Homo sapiens: one gene and its partners. The protein of the gene in region 5 interacts with the protein of the main gene of each other region in a pairwise test. Each region holds a gene or a part of one and is shown on either strand. Other genes may lie near its edges. The genes, in order: TMEM128, ADIPOQ, TNFRSF10C, COMT, KCNK5, TMEM14A and ATP5PF.

Region 1 (3,500 bases), on a different chromosome or scaffold from region 5:
AACTTGAGCAAGACTAGTTTTGTGACTCTAGGCAAATTACCTAACCTCCGTGTGTTTCAGAAATATTGACAGTACTTAACTCAGAATAGCTGTGAGAATTAAATCAAGTGGTCAGCAAAGTGCTCCTCACAGCTGACTCTCAATCATAATCATTATTATTCCACTCAAGTTATTTTTATTTTCATTCATTTATTTCTGAGCCGGAGTCTTGCTCTGTTGCCCAGGCTGGAGTGCAGTGCTGCAATCTCAGCTCACTGCAACCTCCGCCTCCCAGGTTCACCAATTCTCCTGCCTCAGCCTCCCAAGTAGCTGGAATTACAGGCACTGGCCACCACGCCCAGCTAATTTTTGTATTTTTAGTAGAGATGGGGTTTCACCATGTCCATATTGGCCAGGCTGGTCTCGAATTCCTGACCTCAAGTGATCCACCTGTCTCAGCCTTCCAAAGTGCTGGGATTATAGGGGTCAGCCACCATGCCCAGCCATCACTCAAGTTATATCTATGAGGAAAAAATGTCCATGTTCATCTTTAGGAGTCTTCAAAGACCTCTCTTCTGCTAGAGCATGCAATCTCACTGGGGGGAGTATCGCCCCCAAAGTGAAGAAAAAAATATGGCTCTAATTGTATGTATAAAGCATAGATATGCATGCAGTATATAAATGATATAGTTTATCTAATTCCACATTCCACAGGAATGATTAGGAAAAAAATGTCTAAAAAGGCCTTTTATCATTACCCCTAAGGAGTCTTTTTAGACATTTTTTTCCTTTGCCAACATGTGGATATGAGAAAAAAAAAATTTTTTTTTTTTGAGACGGAGTCTCGCTGTTGTTGCCCAGGCTGGAGTGCAATGGCACGATCTCGGCTCACTGCAACCTCCACTTCCCAGGTTCAAGCTATCCTCCTGCCTCAGCCTCCTGAGCAGCTGATATTACAGGTGCCCAACACCACACCCAGCTAATTTTTGTATTTTTAGTAGAGATGGGGTCTCACCATGTTGGCCAGGATGGTCTTGAACTCCTGACCTCAGGTGATCCATCCACCTTGGCCTCCCAAAGTGCTCGGATTACAGGCATGAGCCACCATGCCCGGCCTAAGAAAATTTTTTAAACTGCCTGAACAAAATATAATACTATCAGTCAGTGGTCCTCGGCCCTGGCTTTATATCACAGTCACCTTGCACCTTTCTAAGAGAAACTACCTAGTCCCCAGTTTCCAAAATTCTGGGCCTGAGCATCTAGGATTTTAATTTTACTTTCTGTCTTTAACTCCACTGTTGATTTTGATGCACACAAGCCGAGTATTTTAAACTGTGATTTCTAAAGCATCACAGTGTTGTTTTGTTATTATTTATTTACTTATTTAATTTTTTTAAGACGGAGTCTCGCTCTGTCGCCCAGGCTGGAGTGCAGTGGCGCGATCTCGGCTCACTGCAATCTCCACCTGCTGGGTTCACGCCATTCTTCTGCCTCAGCCTCCCAAGTAGCTGGGACTACAGGCGCCCGCCACCATGCCCAGCTAATTGTTTTTTGTATTTTTAGTAGAGACGGGGTTTCACCGCGTTAGCCAGGATGGTCTCGATCTCCTGACCTCGTGATCCGCCCGCCTCGGCCTCCCAAAGCGCTGGGATTACAGGCGTGAGCCACCGCGCCTGGCCTGTTTTGTTTTTAATATGGACCTGCTCTCCCATCTTTGAACAATATAAAGAACCTTAAGGCCTCAAGCTTCTAAACTTAGGCTAGAGCCAGAGGAAAAAGAAATCACCTCAGGCGTCAGAAGAACGAGCCATTTTAGCCATTTTCCAAAAGCAGAACTCAGCCGGCACTGTCTTTTGTGCAGCCCTCTCATTTCATGGCTGTTCAATACCCCCCAACTCCCCTTAATGAGTCCTTCCCAAGAAAACAATGCGACTCAAAATCCTCAGCCTTTGAGAATGCATTTCTGCCTTTTTCTCTCTAAGATGACACCTTGTTGAGGACAGATCTATGACTTCTACTTTCTTTCCAACCCCCACAGCCCTGGTCCCAGTGTCTGCGTCCCGGCTTTGCCACACAGCAGTTATGTGGTCCTGGGCACTCCACTTCACTGCAGTTGCCCCCAAATATCTTATGTGTGATCATTTCTTACTCTGCCATTTCTCTAAACTACTAAAAATACCCAATATAAGGACACAAATACAGAAGTTCTCTCACATCTCCTAAAACCTCAAAAAGGTCTCAGTCCTGAGGCTGACCTGGACTAGATATCCCTCCTAGATGCTCCCATGATACCCTGCGCCTACACTTACAAAGCACATACCATGCGGCCTGGTAACTTGTCTGCTGCAGCCTAGAATGAGCTGTTGGAGAGCTAGAAATGCACCTTCCACGTGTTTGGCACTGACAGCCAAACACATCTCAGCCTCCATAAAGTATCTGATGAAGGAAAGAGCAGCTGCTATTGGTGGTGGTTAAAGTACCCATCCCCTCCAGCCAGGTGCAGTGGCTCACACCTGTAATCGCAGTACTTTAGGAAGTCAAGGTGGGAGGATCACTGGAGCCCACAAGTTTGAGACCAGCCTGGGCAACATGAAGAGACCTCGTCTCTACAAAAAATAAACCAAATTAGCCAGGCATGGTGGTGTGCGCCTATAGTCCTAGCTACTTGGGAGGCTGAGGTGGGAGGATCACTTGAGCCTGGGAAGTCAAGGCAGCAAGCCATGATCGCACCACTACACTCCAGCCTGGGTGACAGAGTGCAGCGAGACCCTGTCTCAAAATAAAAATAAAAATAAAGTATCCATCCCTCTTTTCCCAGCCCAAGTTCTAAGAGAGATGACTGAGTCAAGCTGATGAAGATTAAATGTCTGTTATACTGATGCAGCCGTGGGAAGAATATGGCTTTGGTGAGTGATGACAAAGCACTTCCTAATACTGGGTCTCTGACACCCAGAAACAGCCTTACCCACTGGGTTCCAGGTCAAAATGAAAACCTAGAGACCTTTTCCTGTGGGGACTGCCCCTGTGGAATGACACCATGGGAAGGCAGACCAGACTCTGCGCTTCCTATGGGCAGCCGACTTGCAGCAGAAGAAGGTGCTGAGCTACCTTTGTCCAGTTCTTCATCACACACTCAATCAGTCACGCCACCTCCCACAAAGGAGTGAGTGACATGGAGGGGCAGAAGATGGGAGTGTTTAGGGAAAGTTTCTCCCCTAGAAAGTAGAGGACAGTTTAAATAAACTCCCCTCTGCCTACTTTCCCCTGTGGGCTTTTTCCTTGTGGCTCGACAGTCTCCTCCGCCAGAAGTCACTGCTCCTCCTGAAGGCCCTTGAGGAGAAATCATGTGTCCTGCCATGATACGAGGGGACCACAGTCCTGTCTGCATCTTCCTACCCCCACTGGTACTTCCAAATTATTACTCTTGACCCTAAGCACACCAGCCCTCCCAATGCCATGATGCTCACCAACATACCTCTCCCTTCCATTTCTTATCCAAGGGTCTCCACATCACTCTCCAA
Region 2 (3,970 bases), on a different chromosome or scaffold from region 5:
CAGGCAGACACTTGCCCTGCCTCTGTCTGAGAAAATTCTGTTTTGGATGTCTTGTTGAAGTTGGTGCTGGCATCCTAAGCCCTTGCTGGGGTCGTAATTTAATTCATCAGAATGTGTGGCTTGCAAGAACCGGCTCAGATCCTGCCCTTCAAAAACAAAACATGAGCGTGCCAAGAAAGTCCAAGGTGTTGAATGTTGCCACTTCAAGCCTAAACTTTCTAGGAACACCTAAGTGGGTGGCAGCTTCCAGTTCTCCAGGCTGCTTCTAGGCCAGAGCTGGGTTCCACAAGAGACAGAATAGGCATATATATGCTTAAGGAACTGGAAAAACAGGCTCTCTCTCTCTCACAAACACACACACACACATACCAAGGTAGCTGTCAAAATGTTATCCGAAATTTTGGAACCAAAAAATCTTGAAAGATGGTATTCCAATATCACATTTTATGTAAGTTTTCTATTATATTAGATTCAAATTACGATTCGAGGCCACAAGCTTTAAGAATTCAGGGCCTTTTTAACTTGCCAAGCCCCACACCACTCCAGGAACTTCCCCACACCCCAGTTCTCAGAATTCATGTGCAAGGTCTTTCCTAAATCCAGGGTCCAGGTCAGAGAGTGGAGGATGTGCTCTATTTCTTACCTGATTGCAGACCCCTCTGACAGTGCTCCCTTCTGAAGCACTCACTGTCTGAACGTACACAGTCTCAGACTTAATCATGCACAGTGAGCAAGACTGTGGTGTGATAATTGGCGTCCCTGACTTATTAGGGCAAATCTATGGGAGGGGGAGACCTCCTGGACCACTGAGCAATTAATTCATTTACATTAGGAAGTTTCTCCGTCAGATGCAGGAAAAAAATCTTGTTTTCCTGCTGTGGTTTTGACTTTTGCCCCATCTTCTGTTGCTGTTGTAGGAGGCAAAATAAGGGTCAAGGCCTGGAAACACAAGTGCTTTGACTGAAGCTCCACTTGGCTTCCGAAGCCCAAGCTGGGTTGTACCAGGTTCCCTAGGGTGCAGGCTGTGGGCAACTGCCAGGGACATGTGCCTGCCCACCGGCCTCTGGCCCTCACTGAGTTGGCCAATGGGAAATGACAATTGTGAGGTGGGGACTGCCTGCCCCCGTGAGTACCAGGCTGTTGAGGCTGGGCCATCTCCTCCTCACTTCCATTCTGACTGCAGTCTGTGGTTCTGATTCCATACCAGAGGGTAAGAGCAATTCTGTGAAGTTCCAGGCTGGGTGGGGGATGCATGCATAGCCTCTGGCTGGGATCACCCAGGCTCTCCCGTCCGTAGTAGTGTGGGAGTGGATACAGGTGGATACTCTGGTCAGAGCAGCACTGGTGGAGGCAGATATGCACTGGGCTTCTTCCTCCGTTCTCCCACAGCCCCAAGAGAGAAAGGGTTATTTCAGACATTCCTTCTAAGATGCATGGAACCATTCTGAATTTTGCCCAGTTCGCTCTGTAGCAGGATACCTATTGAGAAAAAGTTAGGGTCAGTAAGGTGGAAGGGTCTGTCCACAGATGAAGTCCAATTCGATTAAGGGGGATAAGGGAATACATTGCCTCTTAGCTTGACCAGGTAGGGCAAAGGAAGAAGCATATATGAAGGCAGCTTCAGAAAAGTCAAGCTGAGCACTGACTTCAGACTGGAATTAGGAATCCAGCTCTGCCACTTTATTCTACTCAGCAAATATTTACTGAGCAAATTCTATGGGCTAGACAGTGGATTGGGTTCACAAGATACAATGAGTGTGACATGGTTGTTGTCTATGGATTTGGGGATATATGTAGGTATAGGGATATCTTACAAGGTAATCAAGAGGTTCTAATGAGGCCAGCCATGGTGGCTCACACCTGTAATCCCAGCAATTTGGGAGACCGAGGCGGGTGGATCACCTGAGGTCAGGAGTTCCAGACTAGCCTGACCAACATGGTGAAACCCCGCCTCTACCAAAAATACAAAAATTAGTTGGGCGTGATGGCAGGTGCCTGTAATCCCAGCTTCTCGGGAGGCTGAGGCAGGAGAATTGTCTGAACCTGGGAGGCAGAGGTTGCAGTGAGCCGAGATTGTTGCCACTGCATTCCAGCCTGGGTGACAGAGCGAGACTTTGTGTCAAAAAAAAAAAAAAAAGAAAGAAAAGAAAAAGAGGCTCTAATGAGATAAAATGAGAAAAGCCTGGCATATAGTGGCAACTTATGAAAAATTGTAATTAAAAAAAAACATTTTCTGACAGAAGAAACTGGATCTACCTGGTTTTTCTGAAGCCTAATCCTGCTCGCCCCAGTGAGTGCTGTTTCTGAGGCATCCTGGTTGTTTTGAGCTGTGGATGCTGAAGGTTAGAGTGGGAGGGATTTTAGAGGTTAGGTCTGCCCCTCTTGTGTTAGAGGACATGGATCCCTGGTCTGGAGAGGTTCTGGTTTTTGGATCAAGCCTCACAAGGGGTGGCACCAACTCACTCCTAGGAACTCCGCTAGAAGGAAGGCCAGCTCTGCCTAATTCGGTTGGGGAGATGGGGGTCCCTTTATGCTAGCAGAATATGTCCGAAGGAGCATGATGGTGTCAGCTTTGTTCATGAAGGCCAGTGGTACACAGGGAGCCCGGCAGCTTCCTCAGCAGTCCCTGCTGCCACTCTTCCTTAAGTCTTGAGGAGTCTTTTTTTGGCACAATCTCAGCTCACTGCAACCTCCGCCTCCCAGGTTCAAGCGATTCTCCTGCCTCAGTCTCCCAAGTAGCTGAGACTACAGGCATGCGCCACCACGCCCAGCTAATTTTTATATTTTTAGTAGAGATGGGGTTCACCATATTGGCCAGGATGGTCTCGATCTCTTGACCTCATATTCCACCTGCCTCGGCCTCCCAAAGTGCTGGTATTACAGGTGTGAGCCACTGCGCCTGGCCGAGGAGTCTTAAGCTGAGATCACAGCATTGCACTCCAGCCTGGGCAAAAAAAGCAAAACTCCATCTCAAAAAAAAAAAAAAAAAAATAGACACAAGACTGGCTCCTTGTCTTTTTTGGGGACAGGGTCTCACTCTATCACCCAGGCTGGAGTGCAGTGGTGCAATCACAGCTCACTGCAGCCTCGATTTCCCAGGCTCAAGTGACCCTCCCATCTTAGCCTCCTGAGTAGCTGGGACTACAGGTGTGTGCAACCATGCCTGGCTAATTTTTAAAAATTTTTTGTAGAGATGAGGTCTCACTATATTGGCTGGGGGGCCTCAAACTCCTGGGCTCAGCAGTCCTCCCACCTCAGCCTCCCAAAAGGCTGGGATTATATGCTTGCTCTTTTTAAGGTGGCTGTAGGGACAAACTTTCCACCTACTCCTTGTCAAGCCAGTGGACCGGTGGTCCCAGACATACGGCTAAAGTCAAGAGGTGATGTCTTTTGGAGAGATACTTTCAATCAGGAATTTCAATCAGAAATTCAATCATGTGGAGAGAGACTTATCCTAAAAATGTGGTGGTGCGTGGGATGCTCTGTTTTATTAGTTCCTTGACAGTATGTATGTGTGTGAGTGTGTGTGTGCGCGCGCGCACACTCATTTGGATGGGTGTGTATGTGTGGGGGGGGGTGGTGCGTACGTATGTGGATGTGTGGATGTGGTGTGTGGGTGTGCGCGTGCATAGGTGGAGGTGTGTGTATGGGTGCGGGTATGTGTGTGTGTTGGGCATGGAGATATTGACAGCTCTCCCAGGGCTGAGTGAAGGCTTTCGGGCAAAGCTCCTGGGAGCTAGGCAAAGCTGAGTTGATTCCTGGTTATGCCATTTATTATTGGGTTGCACCGTGTGAAACTGCCAATATTCTACACTTTGACTTTTATTTATTTTTATTTTTATTTTTTTTGAGACAGAGTTTCACACTTGTCACCTAGGCTGGAGTGCAGTGGCGCGATCTCAGCTCACTGCAACCTCTGCCTCATGGATTCAAGTGATTCTCCTGCCTCAGCCTCCCAAGTAGCTGGAAT
Region 3 (4,066 bases), on a different chromosome or scaffold from region 5:
CGTGGCTCTGTGTTAATGCTGTCAGTCTTCCTGAAGTCCTGTCCTCTCACCTCCTGCCTAGATCTGCCCCCAGCACACATTCCTGACTCCACACATTTCTCAGTGCCTGCGACCTGGCACACATTTCTGATCCGAACTCAGTGCCTGGGGCCTGGCAGGTGCCCAGGGCACTCCATTGCTCAAATCCAAGCCTGTGGAGAGGATGACATATCATTCCCAGGTTTCTGATGAGCAGAAAAAAAAATCTTTGTTTCTATAGTGCTATCCTCTTTTATCCACCATGTGAGAGGTCAGGAGCCGACTCACCCCAAGGGTCTAGGAGTTGTGCCATTGACCTTACTGCCTAGGGTCACAGGCTGGCACCCTTCAGTACCACACATTGGATCTCTCCACACAGCAGCAGTGTGCTTAACTCAATGGGGAGGTGAGTAGCCCAAGGTCAGATAGTTGGACCTGGATAGACACTTGACTGGGGGACAGGCTTTGGAAGCCACTCCCCTGGGCCTCCTCTGTCCATGGGGCCTCAATACTAGAGCCCACAAGGTCGGCCAGAGAGTGTCTGTGCCTCGACCATGCAAAGGGTGCCAGGTTGTGGCTAGGGATGCCCCCGGGGTTCCTCTCCCTCCTACCTACTCCTCAGCCTCTGCATGTGCCCGTCATGGCCCCTGTGTCCTTCATTCTGTCCACTCATGTGTTCACTGGGCCCCTCCTTGGTGCCAGGCACCCGCTACTGAGGGATACCAAGCCCCTGCCAGAGAAGCTTGGAGCTGGGTCACAGCAGCAAGGAGGCTGGAGACATCAGTGGCATCAGTGCACTGGTCAGTGAGGCCGCTGTGGGAGGAGGGAGTGGGAGCAGAAGCTAAGAGTGGACTGAAGTCCTTAGGCCAGGAGGTAGTTCAGGGTTTAAGAAGAGGAGAGACAGGCGTCCCGGGGAGGGAGCAGGCTCAGGATGGGCCTCCAGTGCCTCCTCTGGAGCTCACTACCCAGACTACAGCAGCGCAGTGGGCAGCGCCTCAGCTCCTTCCCCTTCTGCTGCCTACAGCCTGGACAGGACCCGGAATCAAACCGCAGGCCCTGGGTCACCGCTGCCGGAAAGAGCCAGTTCCTGTCCGTCCATGCACCCACCACCAAAACCCAGGCCTTCCTGGAGGTGCTAGGGGAGGCCATGCCCCTTTTCTGAGTGCTTGGAAGTGACTGCTGCAAGTGACAAGTGACCACGCCTTTTCCCCCGCGGGTATAAATTCAGAGGCGCTGCGCTCCGATTCTGGCAGTGCAGCTGTGGGAACCTCTCCACGCGCACGAACTCAGCCAACGATTTCTGATAGATTTTTGGGAGTTTGACCAGAGATGCAAGGGGTGAAGGAGCGCTTCCTACCGTTAGGGAACTCTGGGGACAGAGCGCCCCGGCCGCCTGATGGCCGAGGCAGGGTGCGACCCAGGACCCAGGACGGCGTCGGGAACCATACCATGGCCCGGATCCCCAAGACCCTAAAGTTCGTCGTCGTCATCGTCGCGGTCCTGCTGCCAGTGAGTCCCGGCCGCGGTCCCTGGCTGGGGAAGAGCGCACCTGGCGCCGGGAGGGGGCAGGGAGACGGGGACACGGCAGGGATGCCTGGCCCTGGTCACCTGCGGCCGGGCATGTCCGGGCAGGACGAACTCGCCGTCGGAGTCAGGGGAAGAACTGGGTCCCCGGGCTGGGCAGGAGGGACCCGGCCGCGAGGGAGCAGAGAGGCGGTCCCCCTGGCTGCCCCGAGCCCGCGAAGGGAGGGAAGTTCCAGAATCGAGAGAGGGAGGGAGTCAAGGTGGAACCCATAGAGTGAGCCTCCTGAAGACACAGAGCGGTTGCCTCTCTCATTAATTAATTAATTAGTTAATAAAATTAACCCCATGTTTACATTCTTAAACGTGTTCCTTGGAGATCGGTTTAACCAACAGCCAGTGAAAAAACTTTTCAGCGCTGTCTTTAGCAACTTTCACCTCCTCTGTCCTGAAAGTGGCAGGAAGCCGGAATGTGGCAGGAAGCGGTTAACCAAGGTGCTGCCTTGGTTAATGTCTTCCACTACCACCCGTGTGTCCCCTCTGTATCCCATAGGCAGGACCGGGGCTGGCCCCTTCCTTCAGCATAAACGGTGTAAAGTTGTTGTGAGTTGGCTTTGGAAACTGAGATTGGTAGTAGTGTGAGTGCAAGGACATATTATGTATAAAATATGCAGACTTCTAGGTCTCTTTCAGATTGATTGAGGTTTTTGCTAACAGCCCTTTTTAAGATTCTTTATGTAATACAAAAAAAAGAAAAAAGAAAAAGAAAAGGCCAAAGCAAGGTTACAGAAACCATGAGAGTTTGCATGTTGTCTTTCTACAAATTAATGCTAAATTCAGAAAAGCAGTAACATTTTCACCTCTCAAAAATTACACAACTGACTTTTAAAATAGTTTATAGTGGGTGGACTTACCTGAGGCAGCTAGAAGAATGGCTGTGTCAGGACAGTGGCCCTGAAGAGAGAATGCATGGATGACCAGTGTAGACAAGGCCAGCAACATCAGTTTCACGGTTTTGGGAATGTGAACTCTATGCGTCCCAAAGGAGGCTTTAATCCCTCCATCAGTCTTGCCTTATTAAATGCATTTAAATGTACAATCACTTTGTTAAATTTTGGAGCTAACACAAATCACATTAGATGTTTTATGGCAGTACATTCAGATTGATCTTCTTTTAAACAAGGGTATTGTATTTTACTGCATGGGTAAGCCACATTTTAATTCACTGTTGCCGCCTAGGGGCAGCTGGTTAGATCCCATCCTGACGGCCTTTGCTAATTCCAACAGCATTGTACTAAATACCCTTGTATGTATCGTGTGTCCACATATCCATGCACACCAGCTTATTGGGCAACTCCTTACAAGTTGAATTCTACTTCTCCTTCTGTGGGATAAATGACTTCAGAAGTTTCTTTAAATGTTCACGAATTTTCCTCCAAAAAACCACTGAACCCAGCTTACAGTCACACCTAGTCCACAAATGTGCCTGTGTCCCTACACCTTTGCTACACTTAGCTTTCATTCTTTACTAGTCTAAGATGTAAAACATAACACATCACATTGCTATGTATTTTTGTTTCCTCATGGTATTAGGAATTTTCAAGGATATAGGAGTTTTTTGGTACTGGGAGTAGACCAGGGTATCCAGATGAGACAGCAGGGAAGACTGAATTCTGAGCTGTGCACTTGGAAAACCCTGGTCAGTTGGGGCCAGTCCCTGCCACCCACCATGCCTGTGAATGGAGATAAGGTCTCCATCCTCAGCCTGTCAGGGTGACTTCAGATGAGCCTGGAGCTGAGTTCAGTTCCTGACCCCAGGTCCTGGCTCTGTCAATGCTGGGCTGGTCCAATCTGTGCGCCAGGTCCTTCCACACCATTCCTCTCTCTATCAAAGTAGGAATTGAGAAGTTCCAACGGCTCAGAATCTCGGACTCTCAGGCTGTCAAGGACTCCTGAGATTGAAGGTTGTGAATGGCTGGGCCCTGCCGTGCTCCCCCTCTGGCTCTGTGACTCTGGTGTGGCCCCAGCTCCTGCCTGTAAAGTGAAGAGGAGGTAAAAATCTTCAGCAGCCCTGTGTAAACCTCAGAGGGCTGTGTTACCAGGTGTGGGAGGACAAATCACATCCTCAGGGCTGGTGTCACTCACTCTGGACTGGATCCCCAGGCACCTGTCCTCCATCCAGCAGAGGCTGCCCCTGTTCCTACCTGCACCCTGGTACTTGCTCCCTGAGCTTGGGGCAGAAGCTTCTGAAGACTAGGGTGGAGCACCACGGGGAGGGGCCATGGAGGAACAGAGGAGCCAGACGTCAAGTGAGGACAGCGATGGCACTGCAGGGCCACAGCCTGGTTTACCTGCCATGCTTCCAGTTGTCCTTCTGGTAGGCGCCTGGCCCGGGTTGTAGTTTGAAGAGTGAGCAGGAAATGTCTCCATCCAGGTGGCTGCAGATGGCTACTCACCCAGGCTGTACTGAGAGGCCACAGTCCCAGTTCTGGTCCTCTGTCGTGTATCCAGGAGTGGCAGGGCAGTG
Region 4 (4,224 bases), on a different chromosome or scaffold from region 5:
TTACTGGGAGGACCAGGATCATCATCCTATTTTGCATAGAAGGTTCAGTTTGTTCTTTCCCTTAAAATAGGAAGATAAGGGCATTATCCCCCTAAGTCTCGTATGATATTCCCCATTCTGAGTCCAGAATACCTAGAAATTTGGAATTTGGCTATTGCCGTGTCTGGACTGTGAGTATGGGAAGGGGAAGCTTTTCTGTCTGTTGTCCCCACTACCGCCCCTCACATCCGTGATTCTGAACCCCATGATAAATGCCCTTTGAACCTTTTTCCTCCTTTTGATGCCGAATCCCCTTTTATGGGACTCCGCCAGCACGGGTGCATTTAACCTTCCTGAGCTTGCCCACCTGACGCATGCAGCCAAGAAGCTTTGAAAGATGGAGTGCCCTGGCTGAGGGTTCCAGGTCTCAGCAAGGCCACGAGGTGGTGACTGCCTCCCAGAACTCTGTTGGGCCACCCTCCGTCCTGGAGACCCCCAAAACCTCCATAGCACCAACTCTGCCCATTCACACACACAGTCAGCCCTCCCTCCCGAGTCCACCGCGGGCAGAGGGCCAGCCACCATGCCTCCCATAGCCGCCATCCCTGGGAAGGAGCCCTGACCCCGTCCTTACACCCCTCTACACTCACTGCCTGTGGGGAGAGCTGCTCGCTGTCACAAGCATCCAGGGGGCTGGGTCGAGGGGCCCCCTGCATGGTGGGGGACCATGTTGTCGTGCATGGAATGAAACTGGCCACACATAACAGATATGGTGGCGCTCTGGTCGGATCTAGGGGAGTCTGTCCTACAGGATGAGGCTTGAACTGTCCTGAGTGACCAGACACCCAGCCTCTGCTTCGAGTGCTCAGTTATGATTATTGTCCTGATTTAGTTAACTGTTCTTCAGGGGCTCCAGGAGGACGAGTGTGTATCCTCCCATTGCTCTGTGCAGCCTCTAACCTCTAGAGTCTAGGGGTCTGGGGAGAAGTTGGGAAGTCTGGCCAGTGGGGCCGGTGCCTGGTGACCTCGGGAGGTGGGATATCATCATCTTCAGAACTGTAGTTGTTACTGGGATACCAGCTCTGGGAGACCACAGGTGCAGTCAGCACAGCAGGACCTTAGACAAGGCACCCAGCCCCAGTTTCCCCACCTGGGAAGGGGGCTACTTGTGGCTAGAAGCAGCCCGGACTCCTGAGCAAGACTAGACCAAGAGGCCGGTATGTGGACACCCCCGCGTGGGCACCCCCACGGGGACACCCTGGCCACCGCCGCGCGGACACCCTCACGAGGACACCCCGGCCGCGCGGACACCTACCGCGGGGACGCCCCGACCCCATCCTACCTGCTGCGCCCCGCGCCGCGCCCCGCACCCCGCCCGCCACGGCCTGCGTCCGCCACCGGAAGCGCCCTCCTAATCCCCGCAGCGCCACCGCCATTGCCGCCATCGTCGTGGGGCTTCTGGGGCAGCTAGGGCTGCCCGCCGCGCTGCCTGCGCCGGACCGGGGCGGGTCCAGTCCCGGGCGGGCCGTCGCGGGAGAGGTGAGAGCGCTGGCTAGACCGGGGCCGAATGCGGCCGGATTCGGGGCGGGGGCCTTCAGACCTAGGGTGGAACACTGGGATAGGGTGTGGGGAATTCGGACCGCTGTGAAGTGATCTGACGTTGGGTGGGAGTCTCCGGACTTGGGGTGGGGAATCTGGATGGGAACTGGGGAATTCGGACCTTGGGTGGGGATCTTTGGACCGGGGTGGGGTCCCCAGACTCCTTGTGGAAAGCTGAGGTTGAAGATCTGTGCTGTGATGAGGGGCTCCAGATAGCGGTGAGAGATCCCGCTTCAAGACTGGGTTGGGGGTCCAGACCAGGAGGATAAGCCTCTCCCTGGAGTAGGGCTTGACCTGGTGAGGGTGTGGTAGAGTCACAGGGGAGGGTCCCACTTGGTCCTTGGGCTGGGATCAGACTCTCAGAGCTGGAGAGTTGCAGGAGGCCTGGGGGAGGGTCTGTGGAGCCCCAGACTCAGAGGGCCTTGGTGACTTCTCCAACAGGCTCCCTGTTGGAGGCCTTGGGGTACCCCAGGGCCTTTCCCTGCAAGAGAGAGGCTGCTCCACCAGGAAGGGGCCCAGGACTCCCCAGGGTCGGGGGGATGTGTGGTGTGCAGGACCACGTGGGAATGTTAGAGAAAGGGGAAGTCACTCCGGGCCTGCCCTGCTAACAGACCTGCTTTTTGGATTTTTCCAGCCAGGGATTTTTGTGTCCTGTTGCTTTTTATTGTTTAAAGTGACCCTCCAAGCCTGAGGGACCGTAGGAGCTGCCCTGCAGAGCCCAGTGAGACACTAGTTAATGCAGAAAAAACAGATTTTACTTGGTAACTACTGACAACATGAGAAAAAGCTGGCTCCATGCTGATTTGTCTAGATGTGCCTGGAGTTTAAAGGGAGAGTGAGGGAGTGGGAAGGGGTGGGGACTCAGTAGAGTTAGGGAAACAGAAAATCACCAAAACTGGGAAGGGAGGGTTGGCCCCTGTGAAACCAACTGATCTGGGTTTGCCACTGGGGCTTACCGAAGTCAGGCCCCCAACCTCCCACAGAGACTGGGAGACAGGGGCCCCATCCTCAGGTGTTGGCTGGAACACACAGGAAATTCTTGTGGCAGCCTTGAACTTCTCAGGCAGGCACTTTAGAGGGGGCTAGGATCGTTCTGGGAATGTGGCCTTGAGCTGTTAGGAGCTATGTTAGTGTTCGTTCCAGCCTAGATAGGCCAGGGTGAGGCCCAGTGGAGAAGGGGACTCTAAGGAGCCTGGCTGGAGTGTGGGGAGGGAGGGTCTTTGTCAGCACTCCCCCTGTGCAAGAAGAGCAGAGACCTGCTTCTTTCCTCTCAACAGTCCCCGTCCATTTTCTGTTCTGTGTTGTGTTCATAAACTACCAGCGGGACCATCTGTTGAGACTTGGTAGCAAAGGATTTTTGCTGGATGATGCAAGCAGTCAAGCATTTAATGAGGAAACAAAAATAACAGGCCAGGCACAGTGGCTCATGTCTGTAATCCCAGCACTTTTGGAGGCCGAGGAGGATCACTTGAGGCCAGGAGTTTGAAACAAGCCTGGGCAACATAAAGACCCCATCTCTACAAAAAATTTAAAAATTAGCCCGGCGTGGTGGCATGGGCCTATAGTTCCAGCTACTTGGGAGGCTGAGGTGAAAAGATCGTTTGAGCCTGGGAGGCGGAGGCTGCCATGAGCCATGATCTTGCCTCTATACTCCAGCCTGAGCAACAGAGAGCCCCTATCTTTAAAAAAAAAAAATAATAATAAAATAAAAAAATAAAAAGAAAGAAAGAAATAAAAACAAAGATGAATGGAGCTGTTGATAAACCCAGTTTTTGAGCCTACAGGGCAGCAGTTGAGGTTTCTGGCCGTTGGGCCCTAACAAGGCCAGCAGGGGCACTCAGGGACTTCCTGGTGTGTGGTGTGAAGTCTGTGATGATGGCATAGGCATTGGTATCCCAGTTGTGGTTACTTTCTGGAGAGAGCATGTGGCATGCAGGAGCTGGAGGGGGGGTCTTCCTGGGCGGCCTGTGTAGCAGCAGCTCCAGGCACAAAGGCTGCCCCTGGAGAATCTGTTGTGGTTCTGAGTTCTTTCAAGTTTATATCAAGTTTTCCGGCTTCAGTCTGCAGGGCTGTTTTTTTCAGATCCTGGGGGCAAAGGGCAGCTACAAGACCACCTGAGTCCCAATAGGGATTTGAGTTCTTGGTGACACCAAGTCAGGGAGGAGACAAATTAGAAATGTCAGTCTGAAGAGAGTGGTAGGTAGCCAGATACTGAAGGAAAGTAGATGGGAGGATTTGGTAAGGGCTGACGTGTAGGAAGGCAGTGACAGTCCAAGTGACAGGCAGATCATAAAACCTCAAGGATAGGCCGGGCCCGGTGGCTCATGCCTGTAATCCCAAGCACTTCGGGAGGCCGAGGTGGGCAAATCACCCGAGTCCAGAAGTTCGAGACCAGCCTGGCTAACATGGCAAAACCCTGTCTCTACTAAAAATACAAAACATTAGCCGGGCGTGGTGGTGCACTCAGGAGGCTGAGGCGGGATAATCGCTTGAACTGGGAGGTGGGGGGCTGCAGTAAGCCGAGATCGCACCACTGCACTCCAGCCTGGGCAACAAGAGCGAAACTCCATCTCAAAAAAGAATTAGGCCGGGAGCGGTGGCTCACGCCTGTAATCCCAGCACTTTGGGAGGCCGAGGCGGGTGGAT
Region 5 (3,500 bases):
GATTTTGAATCTTGATACTGCCATTGCTATGTGTTAGCTATCTTCCCATCCCATCCTTATCCCCAATTTTGCATCCACTGCACATTGGATTAGTAAACCATCTCTGTCCTCACTGTGCTGTGGTTTAAAATATTGAAGAAAACCAGGCCTTAAGCATGATGGTGGAGACTCAGTCTGGGTTGATAATGATCAATACCTCCTAGGGTTGTTTGTCTGCCTTTGAATGGACCCAATTAATCCTGGCTCCACTGACATTTCTGTGTCTTGTCCACATGAATTTCTTTAATCCCATCTGTTAGCTGCCTTGCTGATATCTAGATGGATTACATTCCACAGAACTTCAAGGCTTTGCAACCCTTTGAAAAGGAGATGCACTTAGCTGAGCATGACTTGTTCTGGGTGAATCTGTGCTAGTTTCTAGTGCCCACTACTTCCTCTTCTGCATGTTCCAAACATTCTCCTCTCCCCATTTTGAAGTTTGCAAGAGTTCAGGTTTGTTTTCTGAATTTCTAGAATCCACTCTTTTCCTTTTTGTGAAAAATGGGAACAGCTTGTCTTCTGACATCTTTCCTGTTCCCCATGATTCCATGGGGATGACCAGAGGTGGTGCTGCAGCCTCACCTGTGATCAGTGATTCAATTATCATTTCAAGATGTTCTTGTATGTTCTTATATACTCTTTTCTTGTAGGCCGGTCCCATTCAAGATCGATATCTGAGGTAGCAAAGGTAGATGCCAAAGGAGAGCTGGGTGGTTCCGCTTTCTCTGCCATCTGTTTAACATTAACGTGGCCCTGGTACTTCCTCATTCTCTTGCTCCAAACAGATTTGATGTTTTCAGAAACCCATTGGATGGTCCTTAGTATTTGTTTTAGCTCTCCTGTTGGCCTGTTAGTATCTAAATGTCCTTTAGCCATTTCACATTGAAATGGTCTGGCCAGCTAGACAGAGAGCTCTCTGAGGGCAGGGGCTGCCTTGGCCAGAGTTTGATGCGATGGTCCCCACTTTCCACTTTGATGCTGCACAGCCTTCGTAGCCTCGGAGATGCTGTGAAATGCCGGAGGAGGCAGCGCAGTGAGCTGTGTGGTTTGATGGTCTGACAGACAAGCGTGCCATCATGGAAAATTCTTTGCAGAGTGTGCAGATCCATTTACGCAGGCCGGCTGCTGCTTCTGCAAATTACACTTTCCTTCAGAACAACCCACCCATGCCCTTTTTTTCCCACCAAACCTCAGTCATGCTCTGGGTAGGTTAGAAACAAGGTTTTTTTTGTCTCCCTCTGTTTCCATCCCTCACTCTTCTGTCTCTTCTCTCTCAGTCCTTGTCTTGGTTTTTATAGGCAATTTGGCTGAATGCCTAGCTTCTGGTCTGGATGGCCTACCCATCTGCAGGCGCTCCTTGGGGACAGGACTTGAGCCCCAGATTTAGAGTCCCTTCTTATGTGACTTCTGGGGTCCAGGCCCTGCCAGCTGATAAAGCCCCACAGATAGGTTGGAGCCAGTGGTGATAGCAGAATTGGGGCCTAGTCAGATGGAAACAGGTTTGCAGCTGTCAGTATTGTAGGAGTAGATAAGTTCCCCACACCTCTGCCCCACCGCTCCTCGCACTCTCCAGGGGGACATCCCATCCCCAGGTGGCCTCTCACCTGCTATCCACAGTTACTGGAAGCTCTTTGGGGATTGATAGCACAGTTATGAGTCACCCTGAAATGTACTCACCCTCTGATCTGTCCCTTCCCAGACAGCTGCTCAGCCCAGGGCAGAGAGAGAAAGGGCTACAGGGAAGGGAGGGAAGTGAGATCCCACAGGGGAGAGGGTACATTAGAGTCCTAGGCTGGGGGAAAGGAGGACCTGCTGATTTGCATGCCCTCCGAGGACAAGTCAACAGGGCACTGAGCTGACCTGAGCAGGTATCCTACAGTAGGCTGAAGGGTATATGGGGGGCCCCTCCCCAGCCAACCCTGAACAAGGACCTGGTCTCTGCAGGTAGAACACCCTCCATGGAGGGCTGGGTGAGGCACAGGGGACCTCCTTGTGTGTGTCTGCCTCACATGTGCTTTTTTTGAGAGGCAGAATTAATCTAGTGCAGTGGTTCTCAAAGTGTGGTCCCTGTCCACAGCATCACCTGGGAACATGTTTAGAAATGTTCCTTCTAGACCTCCTAAATCAGAAACTCGGAGTAGTAGGGGCCAGCAGTCTGTTGAACAAGATTTCCAGGTGATCCTGGTGCATGCTAGTAAGTTGGAGAAGCATTGACTCAGTGAAAGAATGAACTTTGGAGCCAGATTGCCTGGGTTCATATCTTTACCTTGGGTAAATCAGGTAACCTCTCTGATCCTCTATACAATGTTTCATCTGTAACATGGAGACACTGCCACCTTCTTCTTGTGATGACTAAATGAAAATGCTTACAAGGAGTTTAGTGCAGTTCTGTCAATCAGCATCTGTTAAGTGTGGCCTCAGCTCTGACCTTTACTGTTTCTCATTTTAGGTGGTATCTGATGCTGCAGGACAGGGTGTGGCCATCACAGGGAACCAGACCTTCAACAACTGGAACTGGCCCAATGCAATGATTTTTGCAGCGACCGTCATTACCACCATTGGTAAGTCTTCTGGGACCTGTAGGACACCCACATCCATGCCCTAGCTCCTCAGAACCTTTCTAGAAACCCAGCTCTGGTCACTCAGCCCTGTTGGGGGTACAATCAGATCAGTTGCAGGCTATTCTTTTGATACTTTCTTAGGGATTTGTTAAGTCCTTGGTAGCTGATCATGCCTGGGAAGGTTTCCTTGAGTCTTGACCTGGGCTCTTTGAGCAGAAACAATGACACAGCCTCATGGCCAGAGCCATGCAAGAGATTAACCAGACTGCTCATTGCAGAAACCCAGATCATGACTACTTACCAAGCTGGGTGTCTGTTTCAGTTCTCAGGCTGCATAGCCAACCAGTCCAGAAGTTTGGCTCAGAACGCAGCTTCTTCTCTTTCACCATTCTGTCAGCTTGACTGGGCTCAGCTGGCTGGTTCTTGCTTGGGCTCCCAATGCAGTGGCAGTCGAACAATGGCTGGGCTGGAGTCTTCTGAAAGCCAAACTCATCTGATGGCCCAGATGGCTCCTCCCATCACAGATTTGACAGTTGATGCTGGCTGTTGGCTGGGAGCTCAGCTGGGGATGAAAACACAAGGCCTCCGCATGTGTTTGGGAACCAAGGCGAAAAGCAGCAGGCTTCTTAGACCTCACCTGTCCAGCGTCTCTTCCGCTGCCTAGACTGCTTCTGTTGTCAAGCCACTAAAGCCCAGATTCCAAGGGAAGAGGATTAGATGACACCTTGATGTGAGCAGTTGCATAAGAAGGGAGGGAATGGAGGATGGCTATCTTTGGAGACCATCTACCACAGTGCTTCTGGGGAATCTACACAGAGAGCATGTCTTATAACTTGCACAGTGGTACCATATAGACTAGTGGAAGACCTGTTGACCAGGCTTAGTCCCTGCCTTCAGGGA
Region 6 (2,988 bases), about 13 Mb from region 5:
GTCACTGCCATGTAACCCACTGTCCAGTGCACAGAAAGTGCTTGGTGTTTGCCACAGTGCTCTGGGGTGGGTATGTGGGTTGGGGGCTGGGAGTGTACTGGTGGGGTGAGTGCATGGGATAGGGACTGGGTAGCTGGGGTCAGTATTCTGATTCTTCGTCTTTCTTGGTAGGGCCTCTATTAGTCCTTGAGTCCTGACATCTTGAGGCATGAAGGTTTGTTAATTATTCAGGATGGAACCATTGCTTGGTTTGTATAGCACTTCTGTCTTTACCTCTATAAACTAAAACTACCTTTGCATCTTAGTTTTTATCATCACAACCTCATTGCAAAAAGGAGGCAAAGAGAATAGGAAAAATTAAAAAAGAAGGGCTTAAGGAAGTTAAATAATTGTCCAAGATCATGTAATCAGTGTCCAAGCCACCAGAACAAGGCAGGTTTTCTTATTTCCCCAAGTGACATCTAACCCCACTGCACTGCTGTGCCCTCAGGGCTCCTCTGCCTTGCATTTGGGTTCAGCAGGAAACAGTCATCTCCTAGAAAGTATCCATGAAGAGGCCTATTCTTAATTTGGCTTTGTCCAGTTACTGTGCCCAAGTAGGAATACATTTGAAGGTGCCTGTATCATACTAGAAGTAATGGAATGAATTCCTTTCCTTTTGGGATTCTCTTTGTGATCTCATATTTTTTTCCCCTTCCAGGTGGTGTTCCGTCTTTGATTGCTGGTCTTTTTGTTGGATGTTTGGCCGGCTATGGAGCTTACCGTGTCTCCAATGACAAACGAGATGTAAAAGTGTCACTGTGTAAGTAAGGCATTTTTCCTGGTTACAGAGACTCAAACATTGGAGGTGATCTTTTTGATACCCTATGCTAGATATACTAGAACATATTTAGTCAAATGGCAAATGGCCATATGCATGTGTTGAGGCTGAATACAACACTTATTCCTTTCTAGAAAGACCTGATAAAAAATGATGGTACTGCTACCAGGCCTTCCAACTCAGAAGAATATTTCTATAAAAACTCGTTACTAGAAAAATTGAATTAGGAAAAGCAAGGAATTATTTTCAGATTTTCTGCTAACTCTCCTAAATGCATATTTAGCATAGTTTTTACATTGCTGTGGAAATAACTAAAAAAGAGACAGCCTTGCATTATTTCATTTAATTCACAAACATCTTTTAGATTCTGCACTGCCTTAAGACTTAACCTAAAAAAGCAAGGCTGACGCTTTTTTAGCTACTTCCCTTGTTAAGTTTAATGGGAGAATATCCACAGAAAAAATGGAAACCTGTGTGTTTAAAGTCACCAGGACACTTGACTTTCATCTCACTTGAAAGAGATACACAGTGAAGATTTAGAAAACCATACCAAGGACATTTTCTCTAGTTGATTTATTATTCAAAGTGCCTTGGTCGTGTATGGAAAAAAATATAAATGAAGACAAAATTGTTCTATATTTGAAGGAGAGTGAGAGATTTGGGGTTTTTTTTTTTTTTTAGTTATTTTTATAAGGGGCTAGGGATATTTTTAGTAATGAGGTTGTGTTAGATGTATCAGCCAGATGTAGTGATATTAGGATTTTTATTGATATGCATTTAAATAGTTCACAAGTATTTATTGTCAGTCATTTTATTTTTTATATCAATAAACAGTTTTTCTTTGAAAGCTGTTTTTAAATTGTGGCATTGATGTCCTAATCTCTTACATAAAACTACCTCTCCCTTCATAGATACAGCTCCAAAAAGGCTGACATGATGCTTCTGAATAAAATACTATTGCTTAGACTATTATTTAGTCTCCAGGCATCAAATTCTCCAAAATGGGATGCTACAAAACAAAACCAATCAGCCTTCTTTTTAGTATTTTTTTTTTATTAATCAGATCTTACTTGTAAAAGATACATTAACTATTTTCTTTATATTCAGTTAACTGAACATTAATGAGTGTCTCCTGTGGGTCCAAGTGTGCTACTTAGTGTTTCTGAGGGAAGTTGAATAAAGCTCAGTGCTAGCCTTCAAGGCGTGTTCTTTGAATAGAAATTTAGGTTAGAAAAAGACTTTCTTAGCTAGGCATGGTGGCTCATGCCTGTAATCTCAGCACTTTTGGAGGCTGAGGCCGGTGGATCACTTGAGGCCAGGAGTTCAAGACCAGCCTGGCCAACATAGCAAGACCCTGTCTCTACTAAAAGTACAAAAATTAGCTGGATGTGGTTGTACATGGCTGTAATCTCAGCTACTCGGGAGGCTGAGGCAGGAGAATTGCTTGAACCCGGGAGGTGGAGGTTGCAGTGAGCTGAGATCACGCCACTGTACTCCAGCCTGGGTGACAGAGCAAGACTCTGTCTCAACAACAACAACAACAACAACAACAAAAAAAAAAAAAAGAAAAAGAAAAGGTCTTTCTCTTTTGAAGATATTTCAGGAATGGATTTTAACATGTTTGTTTACCCAGAAACCTTTTCGGCGAGGTAGATGATGATGAAGTGTTTCTTTGTTTGTTCTTTTGTTGTTTTTTTGAGACAGAGTTCGCTCTTGTTGCTCAGTCTGGAGTGCAGTGGCGTGATCTCAGTTCACCACAACCTCTGCCTCCCCGGTTCAAGCAATTCTCCTGCCTCAGCCTCCCGAGTAGCTGGGATTACAGGCATGTGCCACCATGCCCTGCTAATTTTTTTTGTATTTTTAGTAGAGACGAGGTTTCTCCATGTTGGTCAGACTGGCCTCAAACTCCCAACATCAGGTGATCCACCCATCTCTGCCTCCCAAAGTGCTGGGATTATAGGCGTAAGCCACTGGCCCGGCCATGAAGTGTTTTAATAGAGCACTTTATCTTTTCAAGACAATGGCAACTCAGTACCTATCCATAATAGTTGTAATGTTAGAAAGCTTTAAATGGTACCCGCTGTTTTCCCACAAGCATTGATAACATGTTTGAAACTCTGGTTCATGAATTAGTTTGGTTTTCAGTTACAGCTTTCTTCCTGGCTACC
Region 7 (3,500 bases), on a different chromosome or scaffold from region 5:
TATAATTCTATTTCCCTGGAGTATAGGGTATATGAAGAGTATAAGGATGGTATGGGGTTAGAATGAGGGATTATGGAAGGCCTTGATTGTAGACTGAGCAAGTAAGATATGTGGTAGGCATTTGTGAGAAATTACAGCTTTTTGAACATGACTGTGGGGATGGAAGATTACTCTGAATTAGGAGGATAATTTTAACCAGGGTATTGGAAGGATTGAAATGAGAAGAGAGCAAAGACAGACATGTTAGCAAAATGTAACCTAAGCATTAGTTGATGAGAACCTTGACTTTATAGCAGTGGTAATGTAAAAGTGACAGAGTCAAGACATTGAAACACTGATGCCTGGTTTTGGTGAGCTGCTGGAGAGGAAGAAGAGGGAACAATAAAAGAAAACTGACTTTTGAGGCGAGGTAACTAACAAAGGTGTTACCATTGCCAAAACTGAGGAGGAGAAATAGTGAAGGGATTAAAATGTAGTAAGTTACTCTGTGCTTTGTAGACATGGTAATGAAACTCTGACAACAACCCTATAGATGTTACCCCAATTTTATATATGAGAAAACCAAGGCTGAAAGTTAGAATTTGCCAAAAATCATACTGTTAAGTAACCAGATGTGCAGGACTCGTCAGGGAATTTTGAGTGTCTTCTGTCCAAATGTGGTGTTATATTAGAGTATTGATGCTGTTTGCATCATTTTAACTGTCTTTAAAAGCCTATCTAGTAAGAAGTGAATTCTTAGGTGTACCCTATATCTAAGGAGTCTTGTTTGTGGGTCATTCATTCGTTTGTGCAAACAAACACATGGAGAGTTCTGAGGGTAGACCCTGGGCTGGCATCCAGCACTGCCACTAATTAGCTCTATGACCTTGGGCAGGTTTAACTTCTGTAGGACAGTTTTCTCATATGTAAAAGGAGGATGATGGTAGTACTTACCCATTTCATAGGATATTATAAAAATTAAATTATTCAATACATTAGCATGCCTAGTATTTGCTAGTGAAATGAACAAGTATCTTCTGAGTGACTGCTTTGTCCTAGGCATCATGTGAGAGCCTAGGAATATAGTAATAAGCAAGATAAGCAGCAAGACTTACATTCAGTTGAGGAGGTAGATGATTTCTGGCCTCTTTTTATCACAAGAGTGCATATTAAAGTTAAAATAGCCATCATCCATCTGTAACCAGTATTAGAGTATCTAGTTGAAGGATCTATTTAGAACCGCAGTGTCCATTTTGGTTGCCGTTATCCATGAGACTATTCAAATTCTAATTACAATTAAGTGTATTTATAAATTCAGTTTCTCATTTTCTCATTCATGTTAGCTATATTTCTAGTGCTCAATAGCCAGATATGGCTAGTGGCTGCCACACTGGACAGCACAGACAGAGAGCGTTTCTAACATCACAAAAAGGTCTATTGGACAGTGCTAATCTAAAAGAAAATTGGGTCTCTAACAAGAAATATTGATAACAAGTTCTTAAATTGGAGCCACCTATGTATTTTTTGTGCATGTTCTTTAACTTAAATAAGACTGTATACTTTGATCATAGGCATGTGTAAAAATGTTATTACCCTTGAAGGAATTTTCATGTGTACATTTTTTTACATTTAGAATATTGTTCATTGCTAGGTAGGCAGTAGTATTTATGACAAAAACAGAAGAATTTCTTCAAAGAATTAATGAGACCCAGTTGGCCCTGCTGCTGGTCCATAATGCTATATTTATTTTCCCAAAATGCACAAGTCTAATTTTGTCATTTTATTGCTTGGCAAATAAAATACAAACTCCCAGGCTTAACATTCCGGGCCTCCCATGATCTGGGGTCTGCTGGTTTTTCCATCTAGACTCCTTAGCATTCCCCACATACAGCCAATCCCTTACCACCTCTATGTCTTTGCTTTTTCCATCTTAGAAGGTCTCAAAATAAACCCTGGCCCCAGATGCCTGATGTTTCTCAAATGCCACCTTTTTAAAATGAAATTTTCCCTGATTAGCTTAGCAAAAGTAATCTCTTCCTCAACTTGAATAGCTTTTTGTTAAATCATGTCTTTGAAGCTCATCACATCACTCCTTTACAGCATAAATGTTTGTAAACATGTAATTTTTTTCTTCGAAATTGCAAAATCTCTGAGGGTAGGAAATAATTTGCTTCTTTAATAGGACCCCTATGGTAGAAACTTAAAAGTCTAAGGTCTTTAAAAGCCATTTAGTGATGGCTGACTTAAAGCAGATGATATTAGTAGATAATAATTGAGTACTCACTGTGTGCCAGGCACTGTGCTTAGAGGTACGTGTGCATTTACACCCTCGTTTGGTAGAACCTTCATATTTAGTTGTGGAAACTAAAATTTAGAGTGCTCTGTGCCTTACTCAGGTTTACGCAGTTGCTGAATAGTTGAACTTACACTCAAACAGGACCAGTCTTTGACTCCAGAGCCTGTAGACTTAACGATACACCTTTTGCAACTTAGACCCTGAGAAATTCTGACTTAGTGAGTGTCCGTGATTCTGAGAAACCTTGAATGTTAGAGATTGGTTTGAGGATACCTCATTTATGTGAAACCTCATCGTAATAAAATAGTTTGAATTGAAATTGAAGTAGAAATACTTATTTTCTTTCTGAAGTCTTTTCTTTGACTACATGAATGCTTTAAAAAGGTCTATTGGCCGGGTGTGGTGGCTCACGCCTGTAATCCGAGCACTTATGGGAGGCCGAGGCGGGCGGATCATGAGGTCAGGAGATCGAGACCATCCTGGTTAACATGGTGAAACCCCCTCTCTACTAAAAATACAAAAATTAGCTGGGCATGGTGGCGTGTGCCTGTAATCCCAGTTACTTGGGAGGCTGAGACAGGAGAATCGCTTGAACCAGGGAGTCGGAGGTTGCAGAGAGCCAAGATCATGCTACCGCACTCCAGCCTGGCGACCAAGCAAGACTCCGTCTCAAAAAAGAAAAAAAAAAAAAGATCTGTTGGAATGTGGTGGTGAAAAGTAATTTTGTTTTTGTAAGCTAGTACACAAAATTAATTTTTGTTTGCTCATTTACTTAACAGGACATCTGGAGGACCTGTTGATGCTAGTTCAGAGTATCAGCAAGAGCTGGAGAGGGAGCTTTTTAAGCTCAAGCAAATGTTTGGTAATGCAGACATGAATACATTTCCCACCTTCAAATTTGAAGGTACGTCTTATAAATCACAGATTCATTCTTGTGGGGGATAAGTGAAGAATATTTACACTTACCTGGATTTTTAGAGAACTGAATGACAGTGTTGACATGTGAATTTATTAGGACCATGACGTGTGCCTGAGAAGCTGCCGGCTAAATGTTTGCTGTTAGAATAAGAGCAGTATAGGAGATCACATAACATAGTGATTAAATGGTGGGGATCTGAAATCGAACTGCCCAATCTTGAATCCTTATAATCACTTTCAGCTGTGTAATCTTGAGTAATTAACTGGTGCATGTCTCCTCATCTGACATTTGGGGAGAATTATAGTA

What was found.
Region 1: the proteins of KCNK5 (region 5) and TMEM128 interact in binary tests that used the Homo sapiens proteins (3 or more experiments, as listed by UniProt).
Region 2: the proteins of KCNK5 (region 5) and ADIPOQ interact in binary tests that used the Homo sapiens proteins (3 or more experiments, as listed by UniProt).
Region 3: the proteins of KCNK5 (region 5) and TNFRSF10C interact in binary tests that used the Homo sapiens proteins (3 or more experiments, as listed by UniProt).
Region 4: the proteins of KCNK5 (region 5) and COMT interact in binary tests that used the Homo sapiens proteins (3 or more experiments, as listed by UniProt).
Region 6: the proteins of KCNK5 (region 5) and TMEM14A interact in binary tests that used the Homo sapiens proteins (3 or more experiments, as listed by UniProt).
Region 7: the proteins of KCNK5 (region 5) and ATP5PF interact in binary tests that used the Homo sapiens proteins (3 or more experiments, as listed by UniProt).

Annotation. Positions count from the first base shown.
Region 1 is NC_000004.12:4,241,724-4,245,223, forward strand, and holds part of TMEM128 (transmembrane protein 128), read right to left. Parts: intron 1-3,500.
Region 2 is NC_000003.12:186,841,540-186,845,509, forward strand, and holds the start of ADIPOQ (adiponectin precursor), read left to right. Parts: upstream 1-1,170; 5' UTR 1,171-1,210; intron 1,211-3,970. UniProt on the Homo sapiens protein: Important adipokine involved in the control of fat metabolism and insulin sensitivity, with direct anti-diabetic, anti-atherogenic and anti-inflammatory activities.
Region 3 is NC_000008.11:23,101,655-23,105,720, forward strand, and holds the start of TNFRSF10C (tumor necrosis factor receptor superfamily member 10C precursor), read left to right. Parts: upstream 1-1,266; 5' UTR 1,267-1,467; coding exon 1,468-1,527; exon of another isoform or gene 1,528-1,904; intron 1,905-4,066. UniProt on the Homo sapiens protein: Receptor for the cytotoxic ligand TRAIL. Lacks a cytoplasmic death domain and hence is not capable of inducing apoptosis. May protect cells against TRAIL mediated apoptosis by competing with TRAIL-R1 and R2 for binding to the ligand.
Region 4 is NC_000022.11:19,940,380-19,944,603, forward strand, and holds the start of COMT (catechol O-methyltransferase), read left to right. Parts: upstream 1-1,424; 5' UTR 1,425-1,518; intron 1,519-4,224. Other genes in the region: TXNRD2 (thioredoxin reductase 2, mitochondrial isoform 5 precursor), read right to left, coding at 1,322-1,424. UniProt on the Homo sapiens protein: Catalyzes the O-methylation, and thereby the inactivation, of catecholamine neurotransmitters and catechol hormones. Also shortens the biological half-lives of certain neuroactive drugs, like L-DOPA, alpha-methyl DOPA and isoproterenol.
Region 5 is NC_000006.12:39,194,976-39,198,475, reverse strand, and holds part of KCNK5 (potassium channel subfamily K member 5), read left to right. Parts: intron 1-2,488; coding exon 2,489-2,600; intron 2,601-3,500. UniProt on the Homo sapiens protein: K(+) channel that conducts voltage-dependent outward rectifying currents upon membrane depolarization. Voltage sensing is coupled to K(+) electrochemical gradient in an 'ion flux gating' mode where outward but not inward ion flow opens the gate.
Region 6 is NC_000006.12:52,681,113-52,684,100, forward strand, and holds part of TMEM14A (transmembrane protein 14A), read left to right. Parts: intron 1-700; coding exon 701-802; intron 803-2,965; coding exon 2,966-2,988. UniProt on the Homo sapiens protein: Inhibits apoptosis via negative regulation of the mitochondrial outer membrane permeabilization involved in apoptotic signaling pathway.
Region 7 is NC_000021.9:25,724,905-25,728,404, reverse strand, and holds part of ATP5PF (ATP synthase peripheral stalk subunit F6, mitochondrial isoform a precursor), read left to right. Parts: intron 1-3,054; coding exon 3,055-3,179; intron 3,180-3,500. UniProt on the Homo sapiens protein: Subunit F6, of the mitochondrial membrane ATP synthase complex (F(1)F(0) ATP synthase or Complex V) that produces ATP from ADP in the presence of a proton gradient across the membrane which is generated by electron transport complexes of the respiratory chain.